Regions from separate parts of the Homo sapiens genome. Here regions 1, 2, 3 and 4 are each linked to region 5. Evidence: fine-mapped expression QTL. A gene starts in region 5. Each other region holds a variant in brackets. All regions are shown on one strand. Distances are between the middles of the regions. Region 1 overlaps HIVEP1 (HIVEP zinc finger 1). Region 2 has its middle 49 kb from the start of EDN1. Region 3 overlaps LOC124901260 (a long non-coding RNA gene). Region 4 overlaps LOC124901260 (a long non-coding RNA gene). Region 5 holds the start of EDN1 (endothelin 1).

What was found.
Region 1: its variant is fine-mapped to the expression of EDN1 in whole blood (TOPMed, PIP 0.99).
Region 2: its variant is fine-mapped to the expression of EDN1 in lymphoblastoid cells (TwinsUK, PIP 0.95).
Region 3: its variant is fine-mapped to the expression of EDN1 in whole blood (INTERVAL, PIP above 0.99).
Region 4: its variant is fine-mapped to the expression of EDN1 in whole blood (TOPMed, PIP 0.92).

What each region holds. Positions count from the first base shown.
Region 1 is chr6:12,162,979-12,168,086 of GRCh38, forward strand. It overlaps HIVEP1 (HIVEP zinc finger 1), which reads left to right. Exons shown (of 9, transcript NM_002114.4): 9 at 305-2,021. The coding sequence ends at 1,483. Among named protein-coding and RNA genes, the nearest start is that of EDN1, 120 kb to the right of the region's middle. RefSeq lists enhancers at 319-378, 439-488, 1,208-1,708. The variant C/T (reference allele first, on the strand shown) is at 2,152.
Region 2 is chr6:12,336,710-12,341,817 of GRCh38, forward strand. No RefSeq gene overlaps it. Among named protein-coding and RNA genes, the nearest start is that of EDN1, 49 kb to the left of the region's middle. The variant C/T (reference allele first, on the strand shown) is at 2,299.
Region 3 is chr6:12,249,531-12,254,638 of GRCh38, forward strand. The region is part of intron 2 of LOC124901260 (a long non-coding RNA gene); the gene reads right to left. It also overlaps a transcript of EDN1 not described here. Among named protein-coding and RNA genes, the nearest start is that of EDN1, 38 kb to the right of the region's middle. The variant G/A (reference allele first, on the strand shown) is at 2,474.
Region 4 is chr6:12,238,749-12,243,856 of GRCh38, forward strand. It overlaps LOC124901260 (a long non-coding RNA gene), which reads right to left. Exons shown (of 3, transcript XR_007059454.1): 3 at 2,699-2,746. It also overlaps a transcript of EDN1 not described here. Among named protein-coding and RNA genes, the nearest start is that of EDN1, 49 kb to the right of the region's middle. The variant C/G (reference allele first, on the strand shown) is at 2,250.
Region 5 is chr6:12,288,039-12,293,146 of GRCh38, forward strand. EDN1 (endothelin 1) reads left to right here and starts at 2,323. Exons shown (of 5, transcript NM_001955.5): 1 at 2,323-2,655; 2 at 4,303-4,471. The coding sequence starts at 2,592. RefSeq lists enhancers at 1-431, 432-932, 2,076-2,175, 2,186-2,255.

The DNA of each region.
Region 1 (5,108 bases), 130 kb before region 5:
CTCAGAGTTATTCTCTGTGTACAATATGACAAAATCCAGGAAATTTGCTTCAGACATGCAAAAGACTATACAAGATGTATTGCCATTATTTCTACCAGAAACGAAATTAAAGATGTAATAATTGTTTAATTGGAAGCTTATTTTTAAAAATCGAAAAATAATTTCATTGCAGCAAACATCATTTTTATCAATGCAAATATACTTACTTTTATCTCATTGTGAAGAAATAGATTTAGCACTAGCTTTATATCTCAGTGATTACAAAAGACCTGTCATAAAAGGATTGCTCTCTCTTGTCATTTAGAGCCCATCATCTGTAAGACTTCCTCCTGCTGCAGCTGAGCACAGCCCCCAGACAGCAGCGGGGATGCCTTCTGTGGCCTCACCACATCCTGACCCTCAAGAACAGAAGCAGCAAATAACTCTACAGCCGACTCCAGGCTTGCCTTCTCCCCACACTCATTTGTTTAGCCACCTTCCTTTGCATTCCCAGCAGCAATCGAGGACACCTTATAATATGGTTCCAGTTGGGGGGATCCATGTGGTACCTGCTGGCCTCACATACTCCACGTTTGTGCCCCTTCAGGCTGGACCAGTGCAGCTCACGATCCCTGCTGTCAGTGTCGTTCACAGAACTTTGGGTACTCATAGGAATACGGTCACAGAAGTGTCTGGCACTACAAACCCTGCTGGAGTGGCTGAATTAAGCAGTGTTGTGCCATGTATTCCTATCGGCCAAATCCGCGTGCCAGGCCTTCAGAACCTAAGTACCCCAGGCTTGCAGTCACTCCCCTCGTTAAGCATGGAAACCGTCAATATTGTAGGCCTAGCCAATACAAATATGGCCCCACAAGTCCATCCACCAGGACTGGCTCTGAATGCTGTCGGACTGCAGGTTCTGACTGCAAACCCTTCATCACAAAGCAGCCCCGCCCCTCAGGCACACATTCCAGGTCTCCAGATCTTGAACATAGCATTGCCCACCTTAATCCCCTCAGTCAGTCAAGTAGCCGTTGATGCACAGGGAGCTCCAGAAATGCCAGCTTCCCAAAGCAAAGCATGCGAGACACAACCCAAGCAGACTTCTGTAGCCAGCGCAAACCAGGTCAGCAGGACCGAGTCTCCTCAGGGGTTACCTACAGTCCAGCGGGAAAATGCAAAAAAAGTTCTGAATCCACCTGCCCCTGCAGGTGACCATGCAAGGCTTGATGGCCTGAGTAAAATGGACACAGAGAAGGCTGCCTCGGCAAATCACGTGAAGCCCAAGCCTGAACTCACTTCCATACAGGGCCAACCAGCGTCCACGTCACAACCTCTGCTGAAGGCACATTCTGAAGTTTTTACAAAGCCCTCAGGCCAGCAGACTCTCTCTCCAGACAGACAGGTTCCCAGGCCCACAGCACTACCGCGGAGGCAGCCCACTGTGCACTTCAGCGACGTGAGCAGCGATGATGACGAGGACAGGCTTGTGATAGCAACCTGATGGATTTTATTTTTTATTTGCTTTTTTTTTATATAACACTTAAAGGTTTCTTTGAAAACCCTCCTTTCCTTAAAGCACATTTTTCTGACATAAACTCATGACTAATCTTTGTGCAATCATGAACTTTTGACCAATAATTGTTGTTTTGTGTCAGCTCCAGCCATTTTTGTACATGTTGTATAGACAATTGTGCCTTTTAGGAGCTTTATGTTTAGAAACTGTACAGATTGTTGAATATCTATATACATAAAAATATATTATATATGTATATGAAAACCAGGTAGTTATTTGTGTTTAGTAAGGAAAACCTGTCAAATAAATCAAATGATTAAATTATATGTTCCACTGTTGAATATAAATTTTATGGCTATGGGGCAGAGTTTCTGTGTATAAATTAGTATGTAAACTCCATATTTATTGTATTCATATTAGTCTTTGAAAATGGGTCTGTCCTCCTTGTGTAAGACAGTAACTTTACACTTCAGACAGATTTTCTGTGTTATGAAATGTTTCAGTAAAATATTGTTTACTGACTTTACCATTGCTTCAGTTGTGCCTTCTTTATATCATCCAGTGATCAGTGATCTGCATTTGGAAAATAGCCCTGGGTTCCATTCTTTCCACATTCCCCTCAACCCTTCATTTTTTTTATAAACAGAGACTTTACT[C/T]GCCTTTCTACCATGTGAAACTGTAACTGAAATCCATACAACTGATTGACCTATTTTTCTTATTTGTGAGAAGTCATTTCATAGTTATTATTAGAAGACTAAATATATAAGAATACTTTCTGTATATACATAAAGCATATAGCCTAAAATGGGCAACGTTCCTAAATGAGGGTATGGAAATTTCTGGGAAACATGAGTTAAACCCCATTGTCCTTAGAATTTGGCTCAGATGAGACCCGTATAACCTCATTTCCAGGCTCCAACACCAGATCCATTCGTGGGCTATGGGCTCTTCTTTCCCTTGATGCTGTTAAACTCACAGAGCTCTGTCCAGCACTGAACTACAGAGTGTCCAAGATTACCGAAGAGCCAAATTCAGACTTCTAAATTACTTAAGTGACTCTCTTTAGACATTACTATTTCCTGTCCTGGAAGGTTGAACCATCCTTATTCAGGAAAATATGGCGGCATGGGGAGCCCCCAATTACCAGTGCAGTGATTTGCATTATTAATGATTATAGATGCTAGGTTTATGAGAAAAGTATTTTAATGTTGGAATTTAAATACTTAGCACATCATTAAGTCAATGTATTCACATTTTTAAAGGCTTGCTTAACAAAGATTGCAGAGACATGAAATAAGTAAGACAACAGCATGGTTTGCGAGGTGAGAGGTAGGGGACAGCCTATCTACTAAGGGGTTTGGAGACCTGCTGCTAGCCAACCCAGCTTCACGTCTGTGACTTTGCAAAGACCTGGCATTTCAACTTGCGTATCCTTATCTCAATTAGGATCTCCAAGGTGTGCTGCAGTCCCAGCACGCACTGGTGGATCTGTGATGCTTTAAATGAATGCTTCAATTTACATTTACATATTTCCATAGATTAAGTAACAAAATTCTCTCAAAAACAATAAAACTACATTTTTATATTCTGAGATAGCTTTGGAAAGAATTCTGGAAATATCTGCTCTAGGGATTGCGTTGCCCTATCAATAATAGCTGTTGAAAATGAGGTCTGTTTTCTGTCCAGTTTCTCAAAATTAATGTTTTAACTGTGTCATGAACTTTTTATTGCCTAAAATTTTAAAGCAGTATAATAAGCATATTCTTAACTCCATAATTAAGTACAGATGACTTCTCTAAATTCAAAAATAATGCTTGGAGTTTTTAGCATTGAGGTTTTTTAGTTTCTATAGAATTTTCTTAATTTAAAAAATTCCTATACTTAAAGACAAGTGTTACGATGTGAGTGGATGTTCCCTTGAAATTTTCATAATGCTGTAATGTACCTTACTCTTATTTTGTACTTTTCAAGATTCTTATTTTGGGCTTTTCAAAATTCAATGCATCGTGCAAATACCTTTACTATTGGCAACTTTCAAGCTTTATTGTAGCCTTTCAAGTATTTTGCTAGTATTTGAAATATGCAGCTCTATAAAAAATATTACCAAAGTCTAAGCCATTATATTTTGAAATTACATGCACAAAATAGACAAGGGAACAATAATTTTGTGCTATTTCTCCGAAGTCGTCTTTTCCCAAGGAGCAGTGTCCACTTGATACTCCCAAATATAAACGACTTCCAAATAATGTAATTCGGAGAACTAATGGGACTACATTTGACTTTTATTCTGTTGCACTGTCGTGTGTGGAGACCCAGGCCTGTAGAGAACTAGGGTGCAATGACATAGTAAGATAATTTATTGACAAAACAGGTGAAAGTTTTAATGTGTAACAATTTCAATACCTTGTGTGAATCCACTGCAATGCCATCATCAGAAGTACTGGAAAAAACAGCTGAAGAACCACAGGTCGTTTTTCTAGTTAAAGATTATTATATCTGGCTTATGAAAATGTATTATAACATAAATCGAGGGCGTTCCAATAACTTATTTTCATTCCCTAAACTTTAAGCCAAAATGATAATTATTTCTTTCGAAATGATAATTAACCGATGGTATTGAATGTACAAATTTTGTTTCTCAGTTATATTTTTCATAATATAGACCTGATTTTCCTTTCACAGAAACAGTATAAGTAACACGTTTCTTACTAATTAATCCCTGGCCTGAATTTTAAATGATAGCAGTTAATAAGGATTATGGAAAATAATCATTATTTTTGTTGGAAGACTGTCAAGATAGTTAATAGATCTTGATTCATGCTCAGTTCAAATTATAACATCAGGGTTCTTTTTGACTTTTCTGTTTTTCATCTTACATTTTGCAGTCAACTTCAAATAATACCAGAAAGATGATTTTCATTAATTTTGTTTCAAAACCATCTATAAATTCTAAATACAGCATGTATATCACCTTAAGAATCTTCTCTCAAAGTGACTTCCCATGACTTAAAATTCTAAATTTCCTACTTAATATTCAAAATATGTATTTTGTAATATATATTTGTATATATATAATATATGTATATATTACATGCATGTTATATATACGTTATATTACATGTATATATACATGTTATATTACATGTATATATACATGTTATATATACATATACATATATATGTTATATATACATATATACATATATGTGTATAATATATATACATATATACATATATGCATAATATATATACATATATACATGTGTATATGTGCGTGTATAATATATACATGTACATGTGTAGATGTGCGTATATAATATATACACATGTACATGTATAGATGTGCGTATATAATATGTACACATGTACATGTATAGATGTGCGTATATAATATATACACATGTACATGTATAGATGTGCGTATATAATATATACACATGTACATGTATATCTGCGTATATTATATATACATGTACATGTATATATGTATATATTATATATACATGTACATGTATATATGTATATATTATATATACATGTACATGTATATATGTATATATTATATATACATATACATATGTGTATATATACATATATATGTGTATATATACAT
Region 2 (5,108 bases), 49 kb after region 5:
TTTTCTCCTCTCAATTGATGAATTACGTAAGCAAGCACTGATGAGGCCCTTTTCATTCCAGACACTCAAATGACAACTCTGGCTACCCATGCTGGTTTCACTTAACTTCTTCACCTAGGTAGCTCCTGGTTTGAGTCAAACAACACTCAGAGATTTGTGGGCTATTCAAGCTCAAAGAAACACTAGAGAATTACAATATTAATAATAACTAACATTTATCAGATGCTTGCTATGGGCCAAGACTTTTGCTATGATTTTGTATTTTTGTTTGTTTGTTTTTTGTTTTTGTTTTTTTGAGACGGAGTTTCGCTCTTGTTGCCCAGGCTGGAGTGCAATGGCGCGATCTCAGCTCACTGCAACCTCCGCCTCCTGGGTTCTAGTGATTCTCCTGCCTCAGCCTCCCGAAGAGCTGGGATTACAGGCATGCGCCACCAAGCCTGGCTAATTTTTGGTATTTTTAGTAGAGACAGGGTATCTCCATGTTGGTCAGGCTGGTCTCGAACTCCTAACCTCAGGTGATCCGCCCACCTCGGCCTCCCAAAGTGCTGGGATTACAGGCGTGAGCCACCACACCTGGCTTGTATTTTATAATTTTATTTAAACCTCATAATATTCCTGATTATCTCTATTTAATGGAGGAGTGGGCTGGAAGTAAAGGAGTTAAAAACTCTCCCAAGCCCGTTCTTCCAACCCACTGTGGCAGAATCATTGCTTAACACTTCTTTTTTTTTTTTTTTTTTTTTTTTTTTTTTTTTTTTTTTTGAGAAGGAGTCTCGCTCTGTCGCCCAGGCTGGAGACAATGAGATATAGGCTCATTGCAAGCTCCGCCTCCTGGGTTCGCGCCATTCTCCTGCCTCAGCCTCCCGAGTAGCTGGGACTACAGGCGCCCGCCAGCACACCTGGCAAATTTTCTGTATTTTTAGTAGAGACGGGGTTTCACCGTGTTAGCCAGGACGGTCTCGATCTCTTGACCTCGTGATCCGTCCGCCTCGGCCTCCCAAAGTGCTGGGATTACGGGCATGAGCCACCGCGCCCGGCGCTTAACACTTCTTTACCCTCTCAATTTAACAGAAGCATGGGCAAGATGGATGACAGCCTAAGGTCACACAGAGAGTTACCACCACTTGCTTCTGGTGCTAATTGACTGACAAGGTCCAAAACCTCTGAGTTTAAAGCAATGAAAGTACATACATTCACGTGTCGCTTAAGGATAGACACACGTTCTGAGAAATTTGTCCAGCGGTGATTTCATTGTCATGCAATCAACACAGAATGTACCTGCTATTTACACTTACATTACTACGGTATATAGGCAATACTGTAGGCAATTAGAACACCGTGTTAAGGATTTGTGTATCTAGACAGAGAAAAGGTACGGTAAAAATACAGTATGAGGATCTCACAGGACTCTCGTGTATGCGGTCAGCATTGACTGAAATATCACGTGGCATCTGACCGTATTTACAATAACGGGAGGCAGTGGACACTATCTGACTCCTGAAATCAGATCACCTAGGTGACTCCTTCAAAACTGTGGATGTTTGGCTGGGCGTGGTGGCTCACGCCTGTAATCCCAGCACTTTGGGAGGCCGAGTTGGGTGGATCACGAGATCAGGAGATCGAGACCATCCTGGCTAACACGGTGAAACCCTATCTCTACTAAAAATACAAAAAAGAAAAAAAATTAGCCAGGCGAGGTGGCAGGCACCTGTAGTCCCAGCAGTTCAGGAGGCTGAGGCAGGAGAATGGCGTGAACCCAGGAGGCAGAGCTTGCAATGAGCCTAGATCTCACCACTGCACTCCAGCCTGGGCAACAGAGTGAGACTCCATCTCAAAAATACACACAAAAAACAAAAAACTGTGGATGTGTGGGAAACTGATCTGCAAAGCTGATGATGCAGACAGCATTCCAACATGCCTTCATGCACACAGCACTTACTCATGATAAAGTTAATAAATAGGGCTTCGTTCTCTTTCCTCTTGTGGTGTTCCCCCCTTTAGCCATGGTCTGCTGAGAACAATTTTGTCTTTGCTCCTACTTCCCATGCCTGGAAGGGAAATGTAGTCTTTTGTTGGTTCACACCCGGCTTTTGTGACATAAAATGGGGAAAAGTAAGTTGAGAATGCATGTTTAAAGTGTAAGAGGTTCCTGAACCGCAGCAGGTGGAAGATAGCTGGAGAAAAGAGGGCAGGGATTTTAAGAAGGGTTTCTGAGGCGTGTACATAGATCCTCCCTAGAAGTTTCTCAAGAGACACCATAATAATTGCAATGAGTTTTAAATATTTGTTCGTGGATAC[C/T]CAGTGTTTCTCTGAATAAGAGAGCAAGTCAGGAATAGGCCAAATGGAGCCCTGGTTTTTATATGAGTTGCACATTCATGTTACAAGAACTTACTGAACACCTATTTTGTCCTAAGGATGCAAAGATAAATAAGGAAAGAGCTCTACCATTAAGAATCTTACACACAGGTGTCTGCCTTCCTACCCGGAATGATTGCTAGACCTTTGCCCATCTCGGCTGTGTGCCCAATAGATCTGCACCCAATAGGAAATAAAATATATCGAAACAAATTCAAGGTTCTTGGTTTGGGAGGGGTAGACTGAAACCCATAATGTTGGGAGTGAACTGAAAGACACCTTAATTTGACCCCTACATTTTACAAATAAGGAAACCAAAGCCCAGAGATTAAAGTGGCTTAGCCAGGCTCTTGGGGCAGCAGAATCCCAACAGAATCAAGAGAGGGGCCCCAGTGCTCTTGAGACTTCATCTGCCTCCTCTCCCACGGGCTCCTCAGGCATTACTGGGGCAAATCTGGGGACCCTGCATGGAAGCCCATCTCGCTAATTCATATTGGGAGTGGCAGACATTGTCAGGGGCTGTGAGAGCAGCCAGGTAGAGGCTAGAGGCTGATGGCCCCCTGCCGTGGTAAATGCCTATGATTCAAGTCATAGCCCTCACCTGGGGCAGAGGGCAGGTCCTCTTGCCTGCTCCGAAGTCTTGTCTTCCCTTGGATTCTGACGCTGGTGTCCCTCTAAGCTGGCCAGTGGGCTCTGGTCATCCAGTGCTATCTTTTGTGGAGGGGACAGGGACAGAGTGCTAAAAAGACTCCATGCTTTTCTGAACACTACTGACTTTCCGCCTCACTCTGCAGCCTCCTCAATGGGAGCCTCACACACTGGCTGGACACTGACACTCGGGAAGATCAAAGGTTCATCAGGACACCAGTTCATTCTGATTATTTCTCAACTGTTTGGGTTTGTCTGGGTGGGGAAAGAAAGGACAGTTCTGCTTGAGGTGCCACCAAAACACTGCCTGAGTGGCAGTGGAGCCGGGGAGGCTGGGCGGCTGGATGTGGTCCCACCGGGACCGTTCGCCAGTGGTGTCGCTCTGATGCCTGATTTATTTGTGTATTTGGCAGATGGGAAGGAGGAGTTCCACTGGGTGATAAATTGCCTGCACTGACCTATCCCTGTCAGTGGTAAGCCTGCCTGCCACCCACCCCCACACACCGCACCAAAGCAGTTCAGTCTCTTAGAGTACATTGTCAAGAGGAGAAGAGTTGGGATGGGGGCAGATTATAATGTCACCAGTGAATCCTCAGGGCTGTGGGTCTGTGGAGCTGAATGCTGGAGGGCATAAACAGTGCTTTCCTTTCTTGCTTTCCATCAGACGCAGAGTCCCTTCCCTATGTGGCCTCCAGAACTGTTGAGCAGGACGGGGTGAGGGAGGCAGTAGAGGCCTGGGTCTGGCCCTGGGTTCTGGTCACCTCTACGAACAACTCAGGGGCAAATAGTTTTCTGGGCCATTGTGGATGACTGTGATCCCAGCCTTTCCTATTGCCCTCCCAGAAATGCAAGCCACAACATGAATTCCCTGCGTGGCCTTGAACAAGCCACTATACTTCTCTGGCACTCTGTTTCCCCATCGATCAATGATTATCTCTGTCCAGTCATAACAGACCATTTTGGTCTCCACACCAACAGCGTCGTTGGTGTCACCTCCTGCCCCTACTCCACGTTGGAATTCCTGGGGACTTTTATTGAAAATATGTATTCCTGGATGCCATGCCAAGAAATTCTGACTTAATGGTGCTGCGGTGGGCTCACTTATCCGAATTTCTAACAGCACCCCAGATGACATTTTAATGCATTTAATGCATTTCTTTTCTCTAAATCCATGTCAAGTTAAAACACTTAGTACTGGATCAAGTAATTTATTGTGTTGATTTCTAATGATTTCACTCACATAAAGCCAGTCTGCTTTGACTAGTGCACAAATGGCATCGCAGCCAACACTTCATTTTTTTACTTTTACAAAATTATCCTACAGTGGAGATAGGGAGGGGACACGAGGGAACTTTCTGGGATGGCAGATATATTAGGGGTGTAAGTTTACACTGGTGTATGCATTTGTCAAAATGCGTTGAATTATAACACTAAGATCCGTGCATTTCATAGTATCTAAATTATACCTTAATTAAATGAATGAAATTTAAGAAGAAAAATGGCAAAAACACCAACTCAAAATTCCCCTACAGATAACACAAACGCATTCAGCATGAAGAAGAAGTGCTTCATTTGAGGGACGCTGTCAGCGGCATTAGAAAAGGCTCTGTCACTAACAACTTGTTTCTAAACTAAAGTCTTTCCCACCCTTCCCGCCAACGGGGCAGGCAAAGCCAATTGTAGCTTTAGCAAGTAGAGCGAGACAGGCAGAGATGCTGGAAAGACTTGGAGAAGCTGGCCTGGAGAAGCTGTATCTGCCCTGTTTTAGTGCAGCGGGCACTAAAAAAGCCTGAGGCTTAAACATGTGGTCTGTAAACAAGCAGCCCATAGCACCTCTCTCCCCTCCGCCCCTCCCTCCACTGTCACCGGGATGAAGCTGTGAAGACTGCTTGTCTTCACAGACATTTCCCTAAGTCTGCTTTCATAAATTAAAATGTTCATTCATTCATTCATTCATTCATTCCACATTAAGCGTCTCTGCAGCAGGCACTGGAATGGCTGAGATGAACGACCTGCCATTTCTGTCCCCAGACCCTCACAGTCAAATGAGGGGCCAGCTAAATCCATGTATAATCTCGGGACAGGATGCAAATCGTCTCTCCCAG
Region 3 (5,108 bases), 39 kb before region 5:
TGAGACAAGACAAAGTTTATGGTGTCAGAGCCAGAGAGAAAGCAAGGGTGATCTGAGCCCAGCAACACAGCTCCATTGTAAATAGCTGCTCACCTGGGGCAAACAAGTGCTATAGGATATGATAAGGAAGGTTCATTTCATCATTTTATGGCTGTGTACATCCTGGAGTGAAGGAAAGGCATTAACGAGTTTGGTAAGAGCTGGCAAAGCCAGAGTCCTTATTTGCAAGGCATGGTAAGCCTATGGGTGTGTTATCATTTACTTCATTGTGATTTACGACAGTCCTACTGCTGATTATACCTCTCTGACCCCCTCAGGGTTGGTTGGAAGTTGTTTAGATCCTACCTTTTTCTCTCCAGACACCAGAGACTGCCAGAACCACGCTCACCTGTGAGTGAAACAAGCAAATTCCCTGGCATCAAGGGGAAGTTAAAACTTCTATTTGAAACAACTTTTTGAACACTTTTGGCATATGTGGAAATGTACATATACACACACGCATATGTATGTGGATTATGTAAGGGGTTATAATAAAGTAAAATTAAGATTCAAGAGCATTTTTGACTTTAAGAAAAATATTCCTGACCCATGCACTCTTATGTAACCTGATCCCTCAGAAGCATACAAGATAAATCAAATTTACAGAGTTACAAAAAAGTGTTCACTGACTGCTGGAAAATATATGATGTCATATTTGTGGTTAATGGCCTAAGTTAGATTAAAAAGATGCACTTTTTTGTATTTTGATGATTTGTCCTTTGTTTTTTCTGTTTTAGTTAGACTTGACCATGGAATTGATACTCTGTCAATAAATTCTTTATCTTTCACTGTTGCCACTGGTAAGAATAGCTAAAGGTTTTGCAGGATAATTGCCTTGAAGAAGGTATCTTCAGAATCCATTTATTTCAATTATTTGCCAATATTATTCAAAATTTCTTGTCTTCTTATCACTATCAATGAGTAGAAATTTTCAGGATTGCTAAGAGTTTGTTATGCTTTGTGGGAGAAATTCTGTGTAAGATTGAGTTTTGAAAAAATTCCATGTTGCATAATCTGGGGAAATGCCTGTTCATGCCTATATCTGAGCAAACTTTGTAACTTGTTTATAAAGGAAAAAAGATTTGAAATTTAAAATTTGGCAATTAGGAGCACATTAACTCTCCTTGTCTACAATTTTTATCGCACCATAAAAATACACTTTTAAGAAAAAAAATAGCATTCCTTTTAAAGGTTTCTTTCAAAAGATATCCCTTTAGGAGATGGGAGTTAAATAACAAAATCAATTACTCTCTTTGTTGGGTAAGTCAAGGACTCCCTAAGCCCAAATTTTGAGTGCCTCTTGGCATCTTTGTATATAACAACTGGAGGTTATCCACACATTAATTGCCTCTAATACTATTCAAATGCATAATCAAATCCAACAAGTCATTTCTGCTTAACTGATGCAACACAGATGATGCCATGCTTCCTGAGACTGAAAGGTTTGCTAAGGAAATTGCCTCTAAAATTATGGCAAGTATAAAATAAAGGACTATTAGAGGAGATACCACCTTAGCTGCTGTACCTAGGGATACTGATAAAGGATATATCACAACACTCATTCATAACTGAAAGGATATTAAAATCCAAATAAAGCAAAAGACCAAAGATAACTTAAGCCATACCCCAAAAAGCTAATTAACTAATAAGTTATTTTACTGTTTAACAGAATGAAGAGATTAATGGTAGACAACTCTTTAGCTGGAATATTGGAAAGACTTACACAATGAAAGCAATAAGTGACATAGATCTTGCTAAAAATCAATAAAGCAAGTAAAGCCAGTTGGCACACTATTTAACGTGAATCAATGTGAATGATATCTCATCAAACTTGAGGTGTCATTCAAGAAGGAATACTTGCTATTTCTGTCTCCTAAATTTCCAAGAAGACATTACAAGTGTCTAAAATGAGCACACTCTTAGGTGACCCTGATAGAAGTGCATTTTATATTTACTTGTGAAACGTGCCCCAAAAGTTAAAGAAACCAATAACTCATATAAATTCTTGGGTTTGCAGGATGTCAGATTAAAAACAAGAAACAGCTTCCTGAAACACTAAAACTCCCTCCACTTGTAAGACAACAAAACTGGCTGAAATCTTTTCGAACCGATACGGCCAGCTGGAGTTTGCACAGAACAAGCTTGCTGATGTCACAGCCTGGATTTCCACTGCACGTTTTATATTAACTCCTCCCCAAATTTGCACATGGGACCTATAAGGAAGCACAAAGGGATGACTGTGCGTGCCTGAGGGTCTTTCAGACCTCTCCTTTCCTCCCACCAATTACCTGCTAATCTCAGAATCCACCCTCTTAAACCTTTTCTAGTAAAAGTATTGCCTTAAAACCAGCACAGAGAGATGGATCTGAGCTTGACTCATATCTCCTTGTAAGTCAACTTGCAATAAATAGCTTTTCTTTCTCAAAAACTTGGT[G/A]TTATATTATTGGATTCTAGAACATTGGGCAGCAAGTTCCTTTTGCTTGATAGCACTTTTGTATAAATGTGTATGTGTAAGGATGTAATTAACAGCATCCTTTTAGGTTTCTGCATTTATATTAGGCCAAATCGATATACCTTTTAGATATTGCTGGACTTGGATTCAATTTGCTTTGTTCTCCATTTCATTTACTAAAATCTGGGTCTAATGTAAGAGTTCTTGGTATATTACATAAACATAAATCATTGCTGCTGAAGTTCTAATAGGACTCTGTTGCTACTTGCAGAAACCAGCTTTGAGGTAGTCAAGGAAAGAGGATAAAGAAAAGAACAAAACTGAGGTTTTAATTTCATACATGATTTGTGTCTTTGACAGTGCTTTTGTTTCATACAAAACACAAACGAAATAAAAATTTAGGTTCCATTTCTGTCCCTTGCCATGTTAACTGTCCAATATAAAAAGAATTGAGCATTATGAAGTAGGGTTCTGCAGCTTGCTAGATAATAAAGATATTGAAAGAAGGGTTCAATTTGGGTTGGATGCCAATAGTGGTGAAGCATCCTGCATGTTCACGTTGGCTCTCCAGAACTTTCAGGACTTGATAATTCTGCAGGAACGCAAGGTGGGGGCCTGACTTCTCTTAAGCCACACCAATGCCAGTTAAATTTGGGATTGACAGAAAAGTAGAGAAAGAATAGTTAAGTTTGCATGAACTTCATTTATGTCTTTTTTTTCATGTGTGTATTCATGCAGTGTTCACTCCCTACTCACTATAAGCCACGTGCTCTGCAAGATACTAGGTATACAAAGATGAATAAATTTGTCCTTGAGGAACAAGTAATTATAAAGTTAGAAGATAAAGATAAAAATATCCAACCTGTATTGAAAAAGAAGAAAAAGAAGAAGAGGAAGAGGAGAGGTAGAGGAAATCACCTATGAAGAAACTGAAATCCAACTAACCTCAGAGGAGTTCTTTAAAACTCTACATGCCAAAGACAATGAAGCAACTAACAGAATTATAGGGGAAAAGTTTGTGACCAAACTATAATCTATGTTTATTCTTTGTGGCGAGGACCATAAAATATAACCCCACACACTCAAAGGAAAAAATGCTTGAACACATTCTATAGCCTGCCAAGATTTTCATAAAATGAAGAGCTTAAATTGAGTTAGAAACAGACTCCCAATGAGCAATGAAATTAGCAATTTGAAAGATGCATGCAACTGTCAAAAAAGGGAGAGAGAAGATACATAATGAAAAAATAATCACTTTTTCAGTAATATTTATCAGACCCCCTCCTATATGCTAGACAGCATTCTAGTCAATGAGATTACAACAGTAAATTAAACAGACAAAAATTAAGCAGAATGCAAAGTCTGCCTTTATAAAGCCTATATTCTACAGGAGAATCAGAAAATAAACAAGATACAAAAAATGCATAGTATGAAATCACATAATACCTCAAGTCTTAATAGCAAAAACTAGCATATGGATATAAAAGGATAGAAAAAGTGAGTGAAAAAGGGATAAATATTTTAGCTTATGTAGAAGAGGAAGAAAAGACTTTAATTTCCAGGAATTTACACACACATGTGCACACACAAAATGTAGGGTAGAAAAATTATTGCTTAGACAAAATAGAAGTCAAAGGGAACAGCATTAAATAGGACAAAAAGAATAACTCATACTACTACTACTAATAATAAAAGTCAACACATTCAAAGTCCATCTTCTTATTCTTCATCTGACTCAGTTTCTGCTCTTGCCTCTCTAAGTGAGGGTATTGTCCTACTGCCCCCAAAGCCAGGCCAAAAACCTGGGCATCATTCTTTACTCCTCTGTCCCTGCGCACACCCAATCTACCGCCCGTGACGTTTTGTTTTTCTACCTCCTAAATACATCTCAATCCATCTCCTTCCCTTTGTGCTTTCTGACATTTTGCTCATTTAGAACACCATCATCTCTTACCTGGCCTTCTACCTCAACCCTCTAACTGGTTCCCTTGCCTCCTGCTTGTTTTCATCAAATCTACTATCCATGGGGAGCTCCAAACTATCTTTCAGTCTACCCATCTGATTATAACATTATTCTGTGTAAAACACCTTTGGCATCCCATTGTCCAGAACTCCTTAATGTCACCCTCTGTAGTTTAACTGTTGATTATCTCTCCAGGCTGGTATCTCATTTGTTGCTTTTTATATCCAGCCACGTGAGCATTTGCAATTCCCAAATACTGGGTCAGCCGCTTTCTCACCTTGAGGGTGTTTCCCTCTGCCTGGTACCCGCTCTTCTTCCGTCTCCCTTTGCCTGGCCAATTCCTATTGAGTTTAGACACCACTTCTCCTTGTAAACCTTTCCTCACTCTCCACTCTGCCAAATCTGGTCGAGTTCCTATTCTGAGTGTTCCAATAGAACCTTGAACTTCCCCTATCATAGTACCTTTCCACTTGATTATAACAGCCTGTTGATATGTCTGGAGTCCACACCAGATTGTAAACCCCATAAAGCTGTGGACCATATCCCCAGGACAAAGATCTATCCAGAAGGGGTTTTAATATTAAATGAGAAATATTATTTAAAAAGAAGTAAGAATGCAACCTAAGAATTTGGAAAAGAGAAAAATAAGCCAAA
Region 4 (5,108 bases), 49 kb before region 5:
AGGAAAGTGAAAGAATAGGACCCAGGCAGGCTGTGCAACCAAGCATTTCCTTTAGCTCCTCTTGACCAAAGGCATCCCAATTTCCCAGTGAAGATGAATTAGAAATTACATGAGAACCATACGGTAGATTATTTCTGGATTGGTGTATAAATATATACAGCACTGACGCCAATTGTTTGAAAAACTGCATGTGTTATATCAGTTGGGTGAGTTTAGCTCTTCTCAATGGATCTTTTAGTTATTGGAATAAAATTCCAACTTATAGCAACTTCTTCAGTATAAATTAGGCAGACTTTCAGCAAGTCCTGTGAATACCCAGTTCCTGGCACACAGTGGGCCTCATTACAAGTTGACTGAAGAACCTCAGTTCTGGGTTCTGTGACAATTCTGGGCCCAGAGTTGTCACAGGGCAAATGAGATAAGCAGCATTGCTTGGAGAATGTTGCCTCAATCATTCGTGTTCCTTTCTGGCTGTGATGTATATTACACTCTCCATAGTAATTGTCTGTCTCCATAAACCCATTTAAAAATACACATGTTAACATAATAGGATTGCTAATTATACTTGGATGTTCTTGTTCCTTTTTCTGACTCTATAATAAAGCCTCAAAATGCTAGCTAGGTCATGGCCACCTAAAAGAAATTACATTTTCTTGACCGCCTTCCAGCAGATACGGCCAAGTGACTACACTTTGGTCAATGGATATAAACAAAAGAAATGTGTAAGGCTCCAGGATCTATCTTTTAGGGGTAGGGGTAGGCCCTTCTCCTGCCTCTTTTCTCATCCCTACCTGCAATAACTTAAATATGATGGCTTAAGCTAGAAGAACCATTTTGGACCATAAAGTAAAAATCCTCTGTTGAAAATAGAGGGAACAGGCCTGGTGCAGTGACTCGCACCTCTAATCCCAGCACTTTGGGAGGCTGAGGCAGGAGAATTGCTTGAGCCCAGGAGTTTGAGATCAGCTTGGGCAACATAGGGAGACCTGGTCTCTACAAAAAATACAAAAATTAGCTGGGCATGGTGGTGTGTGCCTGTGGTCCCAGCTATTCAGGAGGCTAAGGCAGGAGAATCACTTGAGCCCAGAAGGCAGAGGTTGTAGTGATCTGAGATTGCAACATGGCACTTCAGCCTGGGTGTCTCAAAAACAGAAAACAAAAAACAAAAACAGAAAAGGAAAAAGAAAGAAAATAGAATAGCATGATAAAAGGAGTGTAGGTTGAGTGAGAGAGAGGATTTGGTGGAACAGAGGTTATAAAGTAAAATAAAAGCAAAGGTATTATGGATAAAATCCATGTTCAGACATCATCATTCTGATTGCTTATAGGCAGAATTGGTAGAATTCAGGTAGGCCAGATGCCATGAAATTTTGTATTGACAAAGAGACCAGCAGTCTAGACTGCAAAAGCCTTTGACCATTCAATACCTAAGGTGACCACCTTTCCCAGACAGCCAGCAGGAAGGCTGTGAAAGCTGTGAAGGCTTTAAGAAAGGCGCGCACTTGGGAGTATTATGAGCTGGGAAACATTTCCTAAAGGGAGAGAAAACCCACAGGCGGCAGTGAATGAAGAAGTTTTGCCCAGTGAGCAGGTGAGAGTCCAGCTGACTCTCATGATTTTGTTTTCTCTTTCTGCCCAGTGGGATCTGATAATATTTAGAGATAAGGAACTATTATGTGATTCTCAGTTTTTAATTTTTCTGAGTGGGAGAAATGTTTGTTTATATAAAGTTTGTCCTGTTCTTATTGGACTTGTAGGTGTGTTGTATTAGGTAACTTACATTTCTATTTTGTAGGGCCCCTGAAAATGAGTAGTTACACTCAGACCTGATAAAGAGCATGGAATAGTACCTGAAAATCCTGGACTTAGAACCAGATGCATGAATTTGGTGGAACTCTGGGATTCTTTATCTGGGAGTACAGGGGTTGAGTACATTTCAAACATGGAAATAAGGGTACACTGAGATACATGGGTGGCCAAAGGGGAGACATAGCTGTCTTTCAATATCTATTATCCCTTAGGTTCTGTGAACCTGAAAGAACCAAGGACTATAAAGAGCAGTGGTGTACAACTCCCAGGAATTGTCTTTAATGGGAGATCATGTGGCTTTATCTTGTCTCTTTTTTGCATCCTGCTGCCTGGAACACAGATGTGATGGCTGGTGTTGATCCTGCTGTGTGCTGAGGGAGATGGAACATCAAGGTAGAAAGCACTGGACCTTCTAAGCATGGTGGAGCCATTATGCCAGC[C/G]CTGGATCATTTACATTCAGATGAGTGTGCAAATTTTTATTCCCTTAAAGCCACTTAGATTTTGAATTTTCAGTCACTCTCAGCTGAACCCAATCCTTACTGCTCTTGGAAGACATTTACACTGTGGGAACCTTAGGATGCACTTTTTTTTCTTTTCTTTCTTTCTTTCTTTTTTTTTTTTTTATTGAGATGGAGTCTCACTCTGTCACTCAGGCTGGAGTACAGTGGTGTGATCTTGGCTCACCGCAACCTCTGCCTCCTGGGTTCAAGCGATTCTCCTGCCTCAGCCTCCTGAGTAGCTGTTATTACAGGTGTGCACCCCACACCCGGCTAATTTTTGTATTTTTAGTAGAGACCGGGTTTTGGTTTCTCCATGTTGGCCAGGCTGGTCTTGAACTCCTGACCTCAGGTGATCTGCCCGCCTCAGCCTCCCAAAGTGCTGGGAAGGACACACTTTTATAAGCAGGCATCTTTGGAGATCTTGGTGGGAGAGATGGCTCAAGGAGAGGAAAAGAGGGAGGTATTAGTACAACTGGGTTTTTATAGGCCCAGCACTAGCTTCATAAAAGTTATTTGCAAAAAAAGTACGGGTCTGTGTTTTTGTCTGATGAGGTGGCCCATTGCTCTATGGTAAGTGGAATACATAATTGCTCACCTTTGCTTTTGGAAATTAAATGTATTTAGAATTGAAACCAGCTTATGGTTTTCTTCTCTTACTCATGTTCATAGAAGATGATCCTATGAGTAACACTTTTTTTGGAGACTCAATCATTGTTTCCAGTCTCTTGCATTCTCTAGTAGGTGGTTTATCTTCAGTAACTTTTGCAAATTGCATCAACATACTTGCCTCCTACAAATTTAAACTCAATAAACCAAGGAGAACAAGGGTGTGATGGTGGGAATTTCTTTTGAAAGAGTCAAGCCCATGCTGTGCAGGCTGCACCCATCTTTACTGCATTCCCATAAAAGGCTTGGGGGAAGGAAGTTAAACCATAACCCCGTTAGGTAATAGGCTATGCATTAATGCAATTTATCTGGAATGAGGAAGGAAGAGATTCAGCTTTGAAAGAATTTCCTCAACAGCATATTCCTCTTTGCTGCAAAGCTGTTTCACTTCAGGTGAGACCCAGGAAGCAGCCTGGGAATTCCTTGACCATCGATACCAAAGGCTTTCTGGAGGTGTGCAGTCTCTAGGGATTTGAGGGTGTCGCCCAACAGTCAGTGTGATTTTACAACCAGTTCTCTCTAGGCTAATTTCTAACGCAGGGAATGAGAATGGTCATGCTGAAAAGTGGTAGAGAGATTTGACTCGCCTGATTGCAAGGACCAGGTCTACCACCCAGTAATTGTGTGGACTAGAAGGTGGTGGAGTGAGTAGTGACCTCTGAAGAGTGTGACCTCTCAAGCCAACTGCTTGAGCTCCAATTCTGCCTCTGCTACTTTGTGACTGTGTAGCCCTGGGAAAGTTATTTTACCTCTCTGTGCCTCAGTCATTTCCTCTATAAAATAGGTCTCTATATGGACCTACCTTATAAGGTTGCTGTGAGTGGCACATGCAAATGTGTTTATAAAGTATATCCCATGGTATGTGGCGTAATTTATTTTTTGAGGGGAGATAGTGAGGTGCTAGTTACACACTGGGATGAGGTAGATCCTTGTTTGGATCTCAGCCTTGCTGCTCCCTGGGTAGGTGGCTTTGGATCGCTGCTCACCTTGCCAGGTCCCTCTGGCTCCTCCTTGGCTGAACATGCTTTGACTACACTGACCTTTCTGTTTCTCCAGCCCTCCTCATGGCCTGTATATAATATTTCTTCCAGTTGGAATGCTCTCTATTAACCATTATGATTCTCATGAAGGCTGTTTCTGTTCTCCAGGCTGGGTTCAGGTCTCTGTGATATCACTCAAGGAGTTTTGTACCTACCCTCCTGAGCACTTAGAATTATGCTAGAGTATTCATTTGTATAATTACAGTTGACTCTTAGGCAGCTCCAGGGATGGGGGCACCAACTCTCCTTGCAGTCAAAAATCCACAGATAACTTTTGATTCCCCAAAAACTTAACTAGTAATAACCCGCTGTTGACCAGAAACCTTAGTGATAACATAAACAGCCAATTAACACCCATTTTGTATGTTATATGTATTATATACTGTATTCTTATGATAAAGTAAGTTAAGAAAAGAAAATGTTATTTAAAAAATCATAAAGAAGAGAAAATATATTTGCTATTCAGTAAGTGGAAGTGGATCATCTTAAAGGGCTTCATCCGTGATGTCCTCACATTGAGTAAAGAGGAGGAGGAGGAGGAGAGGAGGAGGAGGAGGAGGAGAGGAGGAGGAGGAGGGGCTGGTCTTGATGTCTCAGGGGCGGCAGAGGTGGAAGAGGTGGAGGAGGTGGGAGGGAGGCAGGAGAGGCAGGCACACTGGGGGTAACTATTATTAATGAAAATCCTTGTGCAAGTGGATCTGCACAGTTCAACCCATGTTATTCAAGGGTCAACTGTATTCCTATCTGTACTCAGGACTGTGAGTTCCAAGCATGGTTAACAAGTCCTGTGTCTTTCAACCCAATGTCTATACTGGTGCCTGGCTCAGAGGGGACAAAACAAATACATGAATGCTGAATTAATACATACATACATAAAATGAATGTGAGAAGAATTTCCTTTTCTGATGGTTTTATAAACTATGAGCTACTTGAAGGCAGATTACATTTCATCTATAGTTATATCCCCAAAAGCCTATAGTTAGCAAGAAATTAATGTATTTGTCATGTGGATGAGTAAACTGTACCATAGTGATTCGAATTTAATTCACTAACATATAACATTCTGATTTGAAAATAAATAAAATTACTTTAG
Region 5 (5,108 bases):
GGCGTTGCTGGAACCTGCAGGGGCAGCCTCAGCAAGGTGGGGTGGCGTGGAGTGGGGTGGGAGAAGGGACTCCAGCTGAAGTAGAACCCAGGCTGGACCTGAGAATATTGGGGAGGGCATGGGCGGTGGTTTCCGGGTAGGGGCCTTGAGAACATGTTGGTCCTGACTGTTGTCAGTGTTTGGTCAAAGTTGCCAAAAGGTTAAAAAAAAAAAAGTAGGGGGAGTCCCTGCCAAGACATATTTCCCAGGCCACCTTTCTTCCGCGGGAGTGTTGGGGGGGAGGCGCTGCTTGGAACCTGTGAATGTGACATCAGCTCTCCTCTCCTCTCCCAAGGTCGGCTTTGGAGAGGGAGGTCAGGGCACCCTTGCCTGGCACAGGCGGCAGCGCTGGCTTCCGGCTCAGTGCCGCCTGTCCTCCGGGAGCTGTGGCCTCCCTGGGCCCCGGGGCTAGGCTGAGGTAAGCGCACAGCGGAGGCCAGGGGCCCCGGCAGAGGCCCTGGGGATAGGGTGGAGGCATCTCTGGGTGTGGGTGTGGGTGTGGGTGTGGGAGGGAGAGTTCTTGCCTCTCTCTCTCCCATCTCCAACTCTTGCTTCAGTGGCTCTTTTAGAGGATGCATGTCATTATGGACCTGTCGCTGCCACTGTCCCTGTTCCCCCAGCTGTGACTTCGAGGGAGGTCTGGGGATCTGAGTCTGTCCAAACCCACGGCTTTGCTGTTGGGATAAAAACTGTCCTTTTGATTTTAGAAGGAGGAGGGAAAAAAGGTTTCCCAGCATGTGTGTTGTGCCAGTCTTGGAAATTCATCCGTGCTTGAATTCCACCCTCCATCCCCAGAAAAACTGGAGTAAAACAAAAAGAGGAGATGGACAAAGTGTGTATTTGATGGCATCCCCTGGGAAGAGACTCTAAATTTATCCCATAGGTCTTACTGGGCCACTGTGAGCGCTTTGGTGGAGAACAAACAAAAATTCTGGGTGCTCAGTTGTCTAACCTGAAAAATGGGACTAGCGGAAAAAGCCAATGTGTTCCATGCACCTTTTGCTTTCTTTATTAAGGCATGATGTCACCTGTACAGTAACTGCCCTGTGTGTACTTCAGGGGGGGATTTCAAGGTTAGATAGACAGGAAATTGTTTTGAAAATGTAAACACATTATTAAATGTGAAGTATTATCTGATTCCTTGTTCGAATGGCATTTCCTTCTCAGCACCACCTTCCTTGCATATTCACTTAACCTTGTACAAGAACACCTTTTTGCCCTAAATGAAGACACCCCCCCAAAAAAAAGAGTCCCAGAAAATATGTCCCTGCTTGTGCGGGGAATAAATAGAATATTCTGAGGTGCATTCCTCCTTCCTATGTTAGGCAACATTCCTTGACCCTCCTCGGCCCCCAAGCCAGGTTGCGTTTTTTTCTGCCATTTAGAAGGGTTTTCCTTTTTGTCCTAGTAAAACATCAGCCCCTGTAGCTCTTCATCTCCCCCTGGTGTTCTTCTCCCGCCATGTCTTAAGATTGGTGGCACCGACCAATCTTAAGATTTAAGTTCTGTGTGAAAAACACCTTTGCTTTTCAATCAGTTTATCAGCCTCCTCCGCAGGGGAAGTGTGGACACACAAAAGAACTTATCGGGGCTTCTCATCAGTGATAGGGAAAAGACTGGGCATGTGCCTAAACGAGCTCTGATGTTATTTTTAAGCTCCCTTTCTTGCCAATCCCTCACGGATCTTTCTCCGATAGATGCAAAGAACTTCAGCAAAAAAGACCCGCAGGAAGGGGCTTGAAGAGAAAAGTACGTTGATCTGCCAAAATAGTCTGACCCCCAGTAGTGGGGCAGTGACGAGGGAGAGCATTCCCTTGTTTGACTGAGACTAGAATCGGAGAGACATAAAAGGAAAATGAAGCGAGCAACAATTAAAAAAAATTCCCCGCACACAACAATACAATCTATTTAAACTGTGGCTCATACTTTTCATACCAATGGTATGACTTTTTTTCTGGAGTCCCCTCTTCTGATTCTTGAACTCCGGGGCTGGCAGCTTGCAAAGGGGAAGCGGACTCCAGCACTGCACGGGCAGGTTTAGCAAAGGTCTCTAATGGGTATTTTCTTTTTCTTAGCCCTGCCCCCGAATTGTCAGACGGCGGGCGTCTGCCTCTGAAGTTAGCAGTGATTTCCTTTCGGGCCTGGCCTTATCTCCGGCTGCACGTTGCCTGTTGGTGACTAATAACACAATAACATTGTCTGGGGCTGGAATAAAGTCGGAGCTGTTTACCCCCACTCTAATAGGGGTTCAATATAAAAAGCCGGCAGAGAGCTGTCCAAGTCAGACGCGCCTCTGCATCTGCGCCAGGCGAACGGGTCCTGCGCCTCCTGCAGTCCCAGCTCTCCACCGCCGCGTGCGCCTGCAGACGCTCCGCTCGCTGCCTTCTCTCCTGGCAGGCGCTGCCTTTTCTCCCCGTTAAAAGGGCACTTGGGCTGAAGGATCGCTTTGAGATCTGAGGAACCCGCAGCGCTTTGAGGGACCTGAAGCTGTTTTTCTTCGTTTTCCTTTGGGTTCAGTTTGAACGGGAGGTTTTTGATCCCTTTTTTTCAGAATGGATTATTTGCTCATGATTTTCTCTCTGCTGTTTGTGGCTTGCCAAGGAGCTCCAGAAACAGGTAGGCACGCTCGTTGACTTGTAAGTCTCGGAATTACAAGTTAGTGTGTTCTTATCCACCTTCATGCTTTTCTTGCTTCTATTTTTCCCCGTTCTTTTTATGACTGCAGCTTAGAGAGCAAGTGTCTGAGAATTATTGCTGAAAGCTACTTTAAGTCTTCTAGTGTAAAATGTAAAATTCCTCTATTGAATACAATTAGGTGCAATTGACTATAACATGACATTAAAATAACTTATCGTTTTATTATTATTATTCCATTATGTGTTTCCTTGGCTTTTAAAAAATGAGAAGAGTATGGACATATACAATTTAGTCAAATGTATGTTTGTAATATATGTGTTTATACAGGTACACAGGCCATATAGGAACTTAAATCTTATTTAAACACTATTTTAATAGTGTGTTAACGTGTAAAATATTTAAGCATTCCAGCTTGAAGCCAAGGAATTGTATCCAGTCGTTCAAGCAATGTATGTTCAGTAAAATCACCTGCAGAGCAAAAGTCTGTTGACTAACTACCGCCTCCCCCCCCCCCCGCCACCACCCCCCGCAGGCGGTTTCTGGGTGAAGCAGATGTTTTCTTTAAAATTTGTCATCATTGACTTTAGGTTTCTTTTGGCAGGTTTTTGGCACCCAAAACAGTGTGAGCTCTCTTTTCAGCTTTATTCACCTGTGCTGGGAGGGGAGCTAGGATAATTCTTGGCTGCCGAAGGATTTAGGCAGTGCGTGTGCATCTGCCCGGGTCCCCCCCGTTTTTAGGGTCAGTGCACTTTTTTTGTCTTTTCGTGACCCTGACTAAAGAGAAAGGATGTCAAGGGAATGAAAATCCTGGAATGTGTCTGATCATTTGAAATGTACAAAATTGGGCAGATAAGCTGCATGGCTAAATTGTTAGGAGGAAGAGGCAAGGCAGTAGTGGAGAAGGGGGAGGCAGTGGATCCCACACAAGCCTGATGCCCAGGGATTCGGAATTCAAAATCCCCCCAGCCTACCTTCAGTCCCCTGACCTGCTTCTCAGCCCCACCTTAGGTCACTGGTTTCTATGGAGTTACCCTCCTGAATTGAATATTGAATAGTTAATTTCTCTCTCCAATCATTTTCCCCACCTAATTTTGAAAGATATACATCATCTGGGGTACCCTGTGCCCTACACAGCATGTGAAGTGGATGGGTACCCCCTAAAGAGAGGGTCATCCTGAATGGGGAAGTGGCCCCAAAGCTAGGAATAACTGTGATTTCTTGTCTTTAGTCATGTGCCAATGTTAAGTAAGCTTCAGTGGATAGTGCTGTCCTACCAAGTTCCTTGTAGAAGCCAGCCGGATTTTCAACAGGCAGCATTCCACAGCATTTCCCTGAGCCTGCTTCAAGAGGGGTGGGGGAAGTCCCTTTTCAGGTGTTTATCTCCTCTGCATTTGTGTAATCTCCCTGAAGGTGGATAAGCCAAGGGCATGAGGGGGAGGCAAAAGGTGAACTCATGTTAAGGAGGGAAAAAAATAAAGAGCCCTTTTTTCTGTGTTTCTTGCTGATGGCAGGCTGTGTGCTTCATCTGCTTTTATCTGCTCTGCTAGCTCTGACTCTACTGTGATCCAGCATGTCTCTCGGCGTTTGAGGAGACATCCCCCACTGACCTGCTCTTTCTCTCCCCAGCAGTCTTAGGCGCTGAGCTCAGCGCGGTGGGTGAGAACGGCGGGGAGAAACCCACTCCCAGTCCACCCTGGCGGCTCCGCCGGTCCAAGCGCTGCTCCTGCTCGTCCCTGATGGATAAAGAGTGTGTCTACTTCTGCCACCTGGACATCATTTGGGTCAACACTCCCGAGTAAGTCTCTAGAGGGCATTGTAACCCTAGTCATTCATTAGCGCTGGCTCCACTGGAGCCCAGTTTTAGAGTTTCTTTTCTAGGGACTCTGAAGGTAGTCCTTCTAACACCATCCAAGTGCCTCAGTGGGGACAGTTTCCCTCTATTCCTGAAAATAACGACAGCTTCGTTCTTAGCAACCAAGGGGAGGGTCTTCTGAGGCCCCGTAGCTCAGGCTACTCATGATGGGACAAGCAGGAGGCCACTGCACGTTTCAAATGAGGAACTTTCAGTGAGAGGGCCTCAGGGGGACACTCTCACAGTGGCATCTGATGGGGTTTCGGGAATAATTGCCGAGGTCAGATGTGGGTTAGTGCAACCTGTGCTTCTCATGGGAGGGTGGAGACTGAGAGGCAGAAGTGATGATATAGAGGGTTAGAATCACTTAATTTTACTTACAGAAAAACCTAGGCTCAAAGTGTTGAAGCCATTTGTGCAGGAGTGAGTTTGTAGCAGAGCTAGAACTGGAGCCCGGATTTCCTTTGCTGCTATATTTTCCCTTTAGAAATGCCCATTTCAGAACTGAAATAGAAATACTGTCCATAGGCTTCTCTTTCACCTACAGAGAAGAAAAGCAGATTTCCTCCTTCTGCCCTGG